Homo sapiens: one gene and its partner. The protein of the gene in region 1 interacts with the protein of each later gene in a biochemical or structural test. Each region holds a gene or a part of one and is shown on either strand. Other genes may lie near its edges.

Region 1 (3,817 bases):
TCCTCATGGTGCCCTGAGTGAAGATAAGCCATTTTTGATATATGATGGATCAAAATCCCACTGCCTAAGGCTTCAAGCAGTGAGAGGAACAGCCATCAAAGTTTAACTCCAACCACATTAATTTAAGAAACGTTTATAAAAAATAAAGACATCCCAACCTGGGCAACATGGCAAAACCCCATCTCTACAAAAAAATACAAAAAATTAGCCAGGCATGGTGGCCTGTGGTCCCAGCTACTTGGGAGCCTGAGGTGAGAGAATCACCCGAGGCTGGGAAGCCAGGGCTGCAGTGAGCCCTGATTATGCCACTGCACTCCAGCCTGGGCAATGGAATGAGTCCCTGTCTCAAAAAAAAAAAAATGAAGACATCAAGAGACTCTTATAAGATAGGAATCATTACATCTAAGTAAGAACTAGAGGCCGGGCGTGGTGGCTCACGCCTATAATCCCAGCACTTTGGGAGGCCGAGGCGGGTGGATCATGAGGTCAGAAGATCGAGACCACGGTGAAACCCCGTCTCTACTAAAAATACAAAAAAAATTAGCCAGGCGTGGTGGCGGGCGCCTGTATTCCCAGCTACTCAGGAGGCTGAGGCAGGAGAATGGCGTGAACCTGGGAGGCGGAGCTTGCAGTGAGCCCAGATCGTGCCACTGCACTCCAGCCTGGGCGACAGAGCGAGACTCCGTCTCAAAAAAAAAAAAAAAAAAAAAAAGTAAGAACTAGAAGAGATCATTAAGGATCAACTGATCCAGCAAGGGAAAATGAGGAACTAGATAACAAGTTAGTACCAAAATCAAGATTAACCAACTAAAGAAAATGTTATTCCAACAATTATATAAAGATACACATTATAGTGCCTATGACTAATTCTAGAACTTAATTAAGTTTTGAGGGGCGGGGTGAAGGTAATGAGGGGTAGTCTAATTAACAGAAAGATATATGAGCAATAAAAACAAAGAATTTCCTCTTTTTTTCTGAGACGAAGTCTAGCTCTGTCACCCAAGCTGGAGTGCAGTGGTGCGATCTCAGCTCACCACAACCTCTGCCTCCCAGATTCAAGCGATTCTCCTGCCTCAGCCTCCCAAGTAGCTGGGATTACAGGTGCACGCCACCACACCCAGCTAATTTTTGTATTTTTGGTAGAAACGAGGTTTCACCATGTTAGCCAGGCTGGTCTTGAACTCCTGACCTTAGGTGATCTGCCCACCTCGCCTCCCAAAGTGCTGGGTTTACAGGCATGAGCCACCACGTCAGGCCAAAACAAAGAATTTTCGTCAATCTATTATGCAGATGTCAAAAATTGCCAGGTAGTACAGAATCTAAGAGAAATATACGCATGGATTCTGATGACAAATAGTTAACATCAAACTGAGCATTTACCGTATGCTTTACCCACACCCTTACTAATTTAATCTTCAAAATAACCACCCTGAGTCAAATACTATTGCCATCCTCTAAAATATAAAACTAAGACATAGATATTAGGAAACTTGCCAATGCTGCATAACTGGTGAAGTGATAGAGCATGCGTTTGAACTCAGTCTGACTCCAGAACCCATATATATACTATACAATGCTACTTCTCAACATCTTTAATTGACTCTTTTTTTTGGAGACGGAATCTCCCTATCACCCAGGCTGGAGTATAGTTGCGCTCTCTCTGCTTACTAAAACTTCCACCTCCTGGGTTCAAGCCTCAGCCTCCTGAGTAGCTGGGACTACAGGCGCACACCACCAGGCCCAGATAATTTTTTGTATTTTTTTAGTAGAGATGGGGTTTTGCCATGTTGGCCAGTCTGGTCTCAAACTCCTGAGCTCAGACAATCCACCCACCTCGGCCTCCCAAAGTGCTAGGATTACAGGTGTGAGCCACCACGCCTGGCCTCAACTGACTTTTAAAAAGTGAAATTTAGCCGGGCGCGGTGGCTCACGCCTGTAATCCCAGCACTTTGGGAGGCCGAGGCGGGCGGATCACGAGGTCAGGAGATCGAGACCATCCCGGCTAAAACGGTGAAACCCCGTCTCTACTAAAAATACAAAAAATTAGCCGGGCGTAGTGGCGGGCAACTGTAGTCCCAGCTACTTGGGAGGCTGAGGCAGGAGAATGGCGTGAACCCGGGAGGCGGAGCTTGCAGTGAGCCGAGATCCCGCCACTGCACTCCAGCCTGGGCGACAGAGCAAGACTCCGTCTCAAAAAAAAAAAAAAAGTGAAATTTATAGCACCTTAGCAGCTGGCCATGAAGTCACAAACCTGAATTTTCAAAGACTCATATATATGGCAAAGCTTCTCAATCTCAACGTAAGCCTTACCATAAAAGAAAAACGCAGTACTCATCTACAGTATATCCAGGATTTACAGCACCAAAGAGGTCCAGACTGGAACAGCGAAACTCAGATCTGGTTTCAGTCTCTTGAAATTTTACTCCTGCAAAAGACAACAAAAGCTAAAAAATTATTTCAAGTCCTGATGTTACTTTGAGTTGTTTGTATTTCCTGTATTTCACCCTTCTTTCTACCTAATTCTCTGCTGAAAATGCAGGCACGGGTAAAGAATATAAGCTTGTCCTAAGTTACCTAAAATAACTTTTAAAATATTACAATACATGAATACAATAAAATTAGAAAATAGGTTTATAATAATAAAAGATTACTTGTAGAACCCAATTCTAGAGAAAATAACCCCCTAGTATTTTAGTATATATGTCCTTTCAGTTTTCTTAAGCAAACATATGCATATAAAAATATTTAAGCAGAAACATATTGCTCTATATAATCTGTTTTTCATGTGTCATGAATACCGTTCTATTTCAATAAACATAAAACTGTATCATAACTTTTAAGTGATTCTATAGTGTTGTACCGTATAGTCTTCACAAAATTGATTTAACCAACTCTGTGTTTCCTTTAATCTACATGTATAGATTGATAAAATAATGATTAGTTTAAAACTGCCAGGCTAAATTGCCTATAGAATTATACCAGTTGCCAGTGCTTTTTCTGTAGTGTTTGAACTTTTAGATTAATGATTCCTGACCCTAGTTCTAACTCACAAAAGTGATTTTTTGGGGATATAGAGATATCACAAAAGATCAAAGCACAACAAAACATTAGTCTCAAATTCATAATTTATTAAGATTTAAGAATTACCTGGGATTACAGACTAAATCCCAGTATGAATTCCAACAAGCAGAATTCAATTGCAGGTGTTTGCCCCTAGCTTTAGTCTGCTCAGAGCATGTGTTTAATCAGGCTGATCAGCTGAAACACGGACTTAACATGCATTTCATCATGGCAAACTGTAAATGACTGAGGAAGGGCAAACCAGCACTGGCTCCTCATCCCTAAACAGGAAAATTCTCCTAAGGTTAGAACTGGGGATTTTTTTTAATTACCAAATTCCATCCACTAATAACACCGAGTCCCAAGTCTTGCTAAGTGATTAGAAATCCAAATGAGGTAAAAACGAAGATTTTGCTCTTACTCTTACCTCTGGCATCACATGAATCCAGCTTCTATCTAGAAATCCAGTTGAACCACAGGATCTATCAATTATCTAGGATCATTTCTGGAAAATTTAAAAAACATAAATAAATTCACAAAGGTTATGATTACATGACAACTCACACCAGCATGTTCTATACCAAGTCACAAGAAAATTTAGAGTAACCGTTCATCCTTTATTTAACTCTCCATTCATTAATATAAATTATTGACTCATCTATTTGGAGAATGTCACCAAATGCCCAAGCTCAATATCAAATAGGGCAGGATCAGGAGTTCAAGGTTACAGTGAGCTGTGATCGTGCCACTGTACTCC
Region 2 (3,817 bases), on another chromosome or scaffold:
TGGCTCCAGGATCCAAATTCCATGCCTCTTGTCAGGCTGTCTTTCTTACTCAAAGGCTGCATGGAGCGGTGTGTTGTTTCTTAAGTTGAGGATGGAAAGGCTTTCAGTTCACTAGGGGAACACCAGTTATGTAATGCTGATCATTGGCTGTGAGAATCAATGTTTAAGACTGTTTTTTTTTTCTTTTAAAGGAAGAAAAATTATTGATACAAGTTGATAAACAGTCTTTTCAGTACATAGGGTGGTAATAAAGTGATTTTCGTTGGTGAAAAGTTGGGGCTTAGTGCATGGAACAGTGCCTTAGGCATAGCAATCTAGCAAATGTTGAATGATCAAATTAATTACATCTTAAAGAACTTTAGATTTCTGTTAAAAATGTTTTCTAGGACATTCCACAGCAAAGATTTCTTTGTAACAATGGACTGTCTGCAGATAGTGTAAAACACATTATTAAAAGTAGAGTGATTTACATATACTACACTGAGAAGTTATTTTAGGCAAAGTGAGTATGATAAAGTCTTTTATTTCAAAAGCACTTGCCAGGAGGCTTAACCTCTTTTAGAAGCCTTTTTAGGAATTACAGTGTTAATAAAACATTAAGTACATTTTAATTTGCAAGCAGCTAATTTAGCATTGTTGGCTACAACCAGATTGTAACCATTGCTTCAATCAGGATGGGGAAATTGCTGCAAAAGCCAAAAGTGAAACCTTTATGTGTGGCTTAGGCAACTGATTGCCATCTGATCATTTCTTTGCAGCTTCACACTGCACACATTTCCCCTAAGGGCCCTCCTGTTGAGTAGCTTCCCAGAAGGGCTTTTCTCAGAGGGGAAATCTGTGGATTTAGAGGGGTGTGTGTGTAATGTCTTATTACTTATCATGACATAACTGTTGAGTTAAGGAGTTTCACTCTTGTTGCCCAGGCTTCAGCGCGATGGCACGATCTCTGTGCACTACAACCTCTGCCTCCCAGGTTCAAGCGATTCTCCTGCCTCAGCCTCCCAAGTAGCTGATACTATAGGTGTGCACCACCACTCCCTGCTAATTTTGTATTAGAAAGGAGGTTTCACCATGTTTGCCATGCTGGTCTCTAACTCCTAACCTCAGGTGATCTGCCCGCCGAGGCCTCCCGAAGTGCTGGGATTACAGGTGTGAGCCACTGCGCCCAGCCTAATGCTATTTAAAAATGTTCACTCAGAACTTCATATTGTTATATTTTCTCCCAGTTCATAGTCATAGTAGGAGGAACCTCTAAAAGTTCATTCCTTGGGTTTCGTTGTATTAAGCAGTGAGGTAGTTTGCTTTTGAGTATAGGTTTAGATTCTGAGGTTGGGTGATTAAGGAGATAGAGCAATGAGTATGTCACATGTTTCAGGAGGTGAGGGGAGTTTTATATGTGATGTTATGCCAGTGTAAATGTCCTGAATCCACTGAGGCTTTGTGAATTGAGAAAAACGTTGCGTCTTTTTTTCTAAATTCATGCATTCCAGTAAGTTGGGACTGTTTCAGCCTCCCTTAATGGTATTCTTTGTAAATGTTTGGGACAGGTGATGGGAAGGAGTATACTCAATTATTGCAACATTTGGGACCTTTTAAGGTATTTACTAGAAAACTCTGAGGCAGGCCAGGCGTGGTGACTCACACCTGTAATCCCAGCTCTTTGGGAGGCCGAGGTGGGCGGATCATGAGGTCAGGAGTTCGAGACCAGCCTGGCCAACATAGTGAAACCCCCGTCTCTACTAAAAATCCAAAAAATTAGCTGGGCGTGGTGGTGGGTGCCTGTAATCCCAGCTACTCGGGAGGCTGAGGCAGGAGAATTGCTTGAACCCGGGAGGCAGAGGTTGCGGTGAGCCAAGATTGTGTCATTGCATTCCAGTGCGAGACTCCGTCTCAAAAAAAAAAAAAAAAAAAGAAAACCCTGAGACAAAAACTCTTGTCTCAGGGTACTGGGGCCTTTTCTGATCTTGTTAAAACTCTAAATTAGGAGACTGTTGCTTTAAAATTTTATTATAAGAGGACACTTGAAAGTATTCTCATTTTATTGGAACATTTATTACGTTTAAGATATTTCTATATTCTTTGCTACAGCAGTAAATGTGAGAGCCACATTTCTTTGCAGCTTCACACTGCACACACACTGCACACACTGTGCACATTAGAGAGCCACAGAGACGTTCCTCCTGAGCCAGACTCCAACCACTTCCAGAGTTTTCTTGGGAACGGCACATAGATCTGTAGGCATCTGAGTCTTAGCTCCTCCTGTGACTCTCTCCCTCTGGCCCCATGCATCTCCTCCTGTCCCACCTTAGTTAATGGTTCACTTGTCTACTCAGTTGCTCAAGGAAAAAACGCCAGCGGAGCCCTTCTCGGCTCTTCCTCCCTTGTCTAGTCACCTGGCGGATTCTGCTGAACTATGCCTTCAGTCTCTCTTCTCTGCCTGTCTTCTCTCCATCCCCACTCCCACTCCCAATGCCACTGCCACTCCCACTGCCTCAGTTCAGGCCATCCCTGTTTGTGGTAGACACCTGCATCGAGCTCCTTAATGGTTCATCTAAACTCCTTACTGGTCAGCGCACTCTCTGTCCCACACTACTCCTAACCAGCAGTGCATCAGAGTAGTGTATGGTGTGGTGTGCAGTAGAGAAGTGCACATGAGCAGGCCCTGCTCTCAGAGATTGGAGCAGAATTTAGTAGGGTGAGGATGAGGCTGGGACTCTGGATTACAAGTGCACATTCCTTAGCTTTTTCCTTCAAGGTCTTGTCTCACCAGCCTTGTCTCTCCCCACTTGCCCGTTGAGTCCCCTAAAAACAGCATGCTTTGCACACACACTCTGGATCTCGTGATTGGCATCCCTGTCTCTTCTCTGTACCAGGGTAACTTTTTGACCTTTGAGACTCAGCTCAAGGGGCAATTCCTCTGCCCTTGAGGAGCTCAACAAAGGAGAAAAATGGCACGTACCTGGAACAAAGAAATCCTGGGCTGGCCACTGTGTGCTAGATGTCTGCCACCTGAATAATGGCTTGCAGGAGAGGGAAAGACCCCCTCTGACACTGAGGAGGAGGTCGAACTTGGCCTGGCCCTTTAAGCACGAGTAGGGTTTCAGCAGTTGAAGAAGACGGACTGGGTGGCCAGTGAGGTTGAGTCTCTCTCATCCCTCAGGAGGGCTGTGGGCAGTGCCTATGGGAAATGCTTTGAGGAGCCCCAGAGACCATCTGCCTACTCCCCAGTGCTGCTTGCGTCTGACCTTGTGCCGTCCCGCTTTGGGTTTTAGTTAGGCCAGCCCCTGAGATGCTTTCCAGAAGTGTTGAGGCATTGGCTTGATTTTACCCCAGATTGGCATGTCCAGTGCACCTGGTTCCTCCAGAGCTAGGAGACCTCCCTCTGCCAGGCCAGCCTTGGAGGGTGAGCTACCTCTCTATAGAGGGGTCACTGAGGGCAGTGCTGATGGATTTAAGGACAGGTGGCAGAGATGCCATAGCCTTTAGGTTGAGGGGCCAGATCTACATATCTCCTGGATGCTACAGCTATCCAGGAGAAGTGGCATGCCACTCACTCAGAAAGGGCTTTGCATGTATCTCCTGTGGCCAGCTTCATCATGCCTGTTCTTGGGGGACATAAATAAGCCTAACCTCCCCAAGCCCCCCACCCCTATAAGAAAGGGAGGAAGGGGCTTTTGCTCAGAGCAAAGCTGTTTAGAGGAAGACTACAGCATAGCAGTTAAAAGCTCAGGTTCTGGAGTTTCAATCCTGGGCCTGCCATGTCTTAGCTGAGTGACCCTGGGCAAGTTACTTTACCTCTCTGTGCCTTAGTTACTTC

What was found.
Region 2: the proteins of CCNB1IP1 (region 1) and UBE2L3 form a complex in vitro, tested with the Homo sapiens proteins (one study listed by BioGRID).

What each region holds. Positions count from the first base shown.
Region 1 is NC_000014.9:20,323,229-20,327,045, forward strand, and holds part of CCNB1IP1 (E3 ubiquitin-protein ligase CCNB1IP1), read right to left. Parts: intron 3,566-3,817; 5' UTR 3,488-3,565; intron 3,312-3,487; exon of another isoform or gene 3,213-3,311; intron 2,426-3,212; 5' UTR 2,311-2,425; intron 99-2,310; exon of another isoform or gene 1-98. UniProt on the Homo sapiens protein: Ubiquitin E3 ligase that acts as a limiting factor for crossing-over during meiosis: required during zygonema to limit the colocalization of RNF212 with MutS-gamma-associated recombination sites and thereby establish early differentiation of crossover and non-crossover sites.
Region 2 is NC_000022.11:21,570,531-21,574,347, forward strand, and holds part of UBE2L3 (ubiquitin-conjugating enzyme E2 L3), read left to right. Parts: intron 1-3,817. UniProt on the Homo sapiens protein: Ubiquitin-conjugating enzyme E2 that specifically acts with HECT-type and RBR family E3 ubiquitin-protein ligases.